2 separate regions of the Homo sapiens genome follow, and region 1 is linked to region 2. The links come from fine-mapping of genetic effects on gene expression. Tissue or cell type: whole blood. Region 2 holds a variant in brackets; the other region holds the start of a gene. All regions are shown on one strand. Distances are between the middles of the regions.

Region 1 (2,500 bases), 52 kb after region 2:
CTTCTCTTCCTTTAAGCCTCAGGCTCAGCCCAAATGTGACCTCCTGTGAAACCTCTCCAAGTCCCTCCCGGTGGAATGGATCTTTCCTTCCCAAAGGTCCCAGCATTCTTTCATCCTGTCTTACAGTCAGGCTAGTCGTTTGAAAGTCTTCCTACTGGGTTGGACTGTGGGAAACCACACAGCGTCAAGAAAGGCATGGACTTAGGAGCTCAGATCCCAGCTCTGCCAGTCATATCTGAGCAACCTTGTAAATATTTCTTAACTATTCACAGTGTCTTTTCCCTATCTATAAAAGCAGGAAAACAATGGGTTGTGCTGAGGATCACTGCCACATGAATGAATTAAAAGTGCCTAGGTCTGGTACATAGTGGATACTAAATAAATATTAGTTTCTTGGTTCTTGAGAGTGGAATCATGCTTTACACACACTTGTGGGTTCGGCTGTGCTCATGTATCCCCCATGGCCAGGATATAGTAGACACTCAACAAATATTTACTGACAAACTGACTATTTAGCACAATGTCTGGCATATAGTAGGTGCCTGGTAAATATTTGTCACTTTTCTTATATTCTCTTTGAGGACAAAAGCCATGTCCTTCTTTGTCTTCTTTTAAAAAATGGAGATGGGGGTCTCCTTATGTTGCCTAAGCTGGTCTTGAACCCCTGGCCTCAAGTGATCCTCCCACCTCGGCCTCCCAGAATGCTGGGATTACAGACGTGAGCCACTGTGTCCAGCCCTTTTTTGTCTTTGTGTAGCTCCAGTGGTGCCTAGCACAGAGTATGTGCTTTTATATATATGGATAGAAATTAATAATAATAATAATAATAGATACCATTGTTTGTGTGGATGCTCCACACCAGGCATCCTGCTAGGAAGCTTACACACATTATCTCCTGGATTTGCATACATTTGCTATGTAAACAATAACACCAACCTCATCACCCCGTAAGGTTGGTGTTACTATGGTCCTCATTCTAAAGCTGAGAGGAAACTGAGGTTCAGAGAGGTTAAGTATCTTGCCTTTGTGGCAAGATCCAGGAAGCAACAGAGGCGAGTTTTATTAAAAAGAGCCAACTAGCAGACTTGTTTGTATGGGAATGCAACAGAAGGTCACAGAACTGGTTAAGTGACAAAGGTGAGACTTGAACCCAAGCCTTTCTAACTCCGAGAGCCTCAGGTAGTCTCAGAAGCCCGTCTGGTCCGTTTTCCCAGCTGGTGCGCAGTGGTCCACATCTGCCTCCTTCCCCCCTGAGCAGCGGGATGGGCTGGGGCTGGCCAGTCACTTACCTTCACCTTCCTGAAGCAAGACCAGAAAACGTCCAGCAGAGGCATGGTGGCGCGTGGGGAGCTTCTAGGGCCGGCGGGGCTGTGCCGGGCACCGGCTCCTCCCTCTCTGGGGACGAGGCTAAAAGAGGCCCGGGGCTCGGCGAGAGCCAGCCCGGTCCCTGCGCTCCATGAGCCGGCCCCGCGAGGGGAGAGGCGGAGAGCAGCGGTTGCCGGGGCTCAGCTGCCTCGACAGCGGGCGCCTCCCGCCTCCTGGAAGGCCACCGAGGGAGGGAAAAAAGGAGGGAGGGAGAGAGGCCGGCTAAGGAGGAGGGACCAGGAGGCGGGTCACTGATTCAAACTCGGCACCGTTAGCCAGTTGGCTGGAACGGGACAGCAATGCCAATTGAAATTCCCTGAACATTACAGTTCCCCGGCTCCGGGTGTCCGGCCCTCCTGCCGGCTCCCCTGCCAGCCCCGCCACCTGCATGCTGGCATTGCCTGCCTGCTTGCTTCTTGGCTGACTGACACGCCAGCTCTCCTTGGGGACCTCTCGGTAGAGCCCAGACCACACAGGGCCTGTGGAAAGAGTGCCAAGGAAAAGGGGCAAGGAAGGAGAGCCCCGGCCCCAGCAGGACCGAACAAGGTGTGAATGCAGTCCACGGAAGGGGAAAAGCTTGCAGCCTTAGAAGCCCCTCTCAGACAGGTGCCCTGGCCCTGCCTCAGTAGATTATTCTCCAGCCCTCTGAAGTGAGGACTCTTGACTCACTGTGGCATCTCGGAGAGGCCCCTTCCTCCTGGGTCTCAGTTTTCCCAGCTGTACAATGAGATGCCGGGTTAGAGGTCTCTAAGTATCAAATCTGTTTGGGGTTAGGTACAGGGCAAGTCTCAAAGAAACTCCACTCTGGACAATCACAGTTCCTCTCAGAACTCCCCTGCTGCTCCTGGGAGTCCATAGGAAGTCAGGTCTTGCCCCAAAGAGAATCTGAGCCCTCAAATGCCATTTCATCCATCCCCCTGCCCCAGGGCATAACAGCAGCTCTCTCCCAGCTCAGATAGACTGGGTGTATGCCCTTTTCTGAACATCTTCTGAAGAGATGATGGCTTCCCTCCTTTATCCAGTCCCATGCTCAGGACCCTCTAAGCCCAGAAGTTTAGCCTGAAATCTAAACTTGAACCCTCTGGATGCCCTGAAAGGAAAGAAAGTCAGCAGCAGGCAGTTCTAGAGGCTTTCT
Region 2 (2,756 bases):
GCGTGTGATGAGCACTCAGGTGGGGAAGGAGACCCGAACCTCAGCTCTTGCCTCCTGGCCAGGCATCTGGAGAGAGGCATGGCCCAGTCATTAAAGATGTCAGGAGGTGGAGTCAGACCACCTGGGTCCTGATCCCAGCTCCATCACTCCCCGGATATGTGACCTTGGGCAAGTTTATTAAATAAAAGAGAGACAAAGATAGCAGTACCTACCTTATGGAATTGCCATGAATGCTAAAGAAGTTAAAATTTGCCAAGAATTTAGAAGAGTTCACTATTATTATTGGTGTCACCATCACTACTATAGCCTGTTGAGTGTCGCGAATGCCACTAAAGAAGGCCAGAGGAAGGGAGCCCTGTGGGTGGGCATGGCCAAAGGGAGCTTTTCTGGGTAAGGTGGACTCTGAAATGACTGCAAAGTCCAGACCGAATGCCCACGAGGTGGCAGGTTTGAGAACTGCCCACCCCCAGGTCAGTGAAAAACAACCAAATGACAGGACTGCAGAAGGTACTACCAAGCAACAATAATGGCAATAATTTTATTTATATTGTTGGATTTAATATTCAACAACTCCATGAGGTGGGTACATATCTCCATTTTAGAGCTGACAAAATGAAGGCTCAGAGAAGTTAAGTAATTTGCCCAAAGTCTCCCAGCACTGTGAACATGAGAGCTTGTGTACAGCTCAGGACGTATTTTACTTCTGCTCCACTCTGACCCCTTTTCCACATTCCCCTCTCTGTTTTTCCCATTTAGAAGGCCCTGCTGGTGTGGGCACTGCTCAGGACAGATGTTTGGGGACAAGCTCTTCCCACAAGCTCACTGCCTCTGCCACAGCCTGACTTGACCTCAGCCTGGAGCAGAAAGGCTGGCTGCAGGTGCCTATCTCACACCTCAGACAGGCCAGCCTTTGGCCAGCCCAGATAAAGGACAGGAAATCCTAGGCCACGTCCCTTGGAGCTCACTCTCTCACAGGAACAGAGTTGCAGCCAGGGCAGGGGTTCCTCTGTGGTGGGGAAGCTGCCGAGTCAGCCCCGGCTGCCATGGCTGCTGGGTGTGGTTTGGGGAAAACAGGGA[G/A]GGCTGAGGGTCAGGAGACCTGGGCTCCAAATCCTCCCTCACTGGAGACTGTTCTTCCCTTCCCTGGGCCTCAGGTGGAGACCACCACAGATCATTCTGGGGAAATCATACCATCTACTTTACAGGGCTGCTCTAAGAACACAATGGAATCATGGAAGTGAAAGTGCCTTGGCAACTGAAGAAATGGGAGGACTCATAGTCATCATCATCAACTGCCAGGGGAAGGAATGGCTACGTTGGTATTTCTCACTGTCTGATTCACTCTTCTAGGCCCCACTGTGGGCATGGCTCATACTCATTTCCGGCTTCAGTACTCCCTAAAATATCCCCTTCCCTCCACCCACCCCTGACCAACTCCAAAGATAAAACCGAGTGGCAGGAAAGCAGGGTACGCTGGAAGCCCCCCACATATTACATTGTATTTAACTCAACAAGGGGAACACCTACTAACACCAGGCTTGTCCTCCACTATGGGGGCACCAATAAGAAGGCCCTACCTTCCAAGGGCTCTCCAATCGTGAGAGCTGGCTGGACCTGAACCATAAACAAATCAGTGTTGTCTAAGGTATTTGCACCCAAGATTCTGGGGGTTAGGAGTCTACCTGTTGTGGTAACCAGAAAAGGATTATGGAAAAGTCATCTGAACAAGTTCAGACTATAAATAAACTAAGGGGAGTGAGGGGTTTCCAGTGCCCCATTTCCTGCCCCCACATGTTAAGGGGGCCATAAACAGTAGCATGTAGGGAGGACAGAGGACAGTGATGAGGCTGGGAAGGGGGCTGCTCCAGGTCTGAGAAGGAGCGCAGACGCTTGAAGGTTGTTTGGCCTAGAGAAGACACAGGTGCACTTGGGTTCCATCCTCAGATCCCTGAAGGTCAGAGAGAGCAGACAGGGTCCAGGTGGTCCCAGAGGGCACACTCGGAACCCAGGGTTAGAAGCCTCAGGGAGGCACAGTTAAGTTCAACATAAGAGAAAACTTTCACACATTCCAAAGACGAAAGCAACTTGCTTGAAACATATCACATTCCCAGGTATTGAACATGAGTGAGCAGGAACTGCACAAGTACCTGTCGGGAAGCCCCAAGCTTCAGAAGGAAAGTTGGACCTAGTGCCCTCTAAAGGTCCTTCTGCCCTGAGCTCTGCCTGCATACCTACCTCTAGAGGGGTTGTGGGAGAGAGCATAAAGGTGACTGGAGCTGGCTAGGCCCTTGGCTGCTTCCCACAGGGACCTAGGATCCCAGGAGCACCTTGGGCTGGTACGACCCAGGGGGAGCAGTTCACTCATTAACTTGTGGCTGAATGGGTCAGAGAGTGGCTGGCCACTAGGGACAGACACAGGCTTGGGGAGGGGCCAGAGAGCAAACTGCAGAAATGCCCAAGCACAAGGAGAACCCAAGCTGTGGCAATTCAGGGCTTGGCCAGCTCCAACTGACCCAGCCAGCTGAGAACATTCAGTGTCTGGGCCTGATTGAATTTGAAGCCAGCTCACCATTGCCTGGTAGATAAGAAAAGGGTCTTGAGTGGGGAGGCATACTTGCATAGCTGAAAGGAAGGCTCACAGACCACTGAGTCTGCCTGCCAACTGCCCTACCCACTTTATAGTTGTGGAAATTGAGGCCCAGAGAAAGCAAAAATCACTCACCGAGAGAAAGCTATAGAGGGGGCAGAACCAGAAGCCG

The links. PIP is the estimated chance that this variant, and not a neighbour inherited with it, causes the effect.
Region 1: it holds the start of STARD8, and the variant in region 2 is fine-mapped to the expression of STARD8 in whole blood (TOPMed, PIP 0.98).

What each region holds. Positions count from the first base shown.
Region 1 is chrX:68,646,717-68,649,216 of GRCh38, reverse strand. It overlaps STARD8 (StAR related lipid transfer domain containing 8), which reads right to left and starts at 1,551. Exons shown (of 15, transcript NM_001142503.3): 1 at 1,290-1,551. The coding sequence starts at 1,334.
Region 2 is chrX:68,698,726-68,701,481 of GRCh38, reverse strand. All of the region lies in intron 2 of STARD8 (StAR related lipid transfer domain containing 8), which reads right to left. Among named protein-coding and RNA genes, the nearest start is that of STARD8, 52 kb to the right of the region's middle. The variant G/A (reference allele first, on the strand shown) is at 1,078.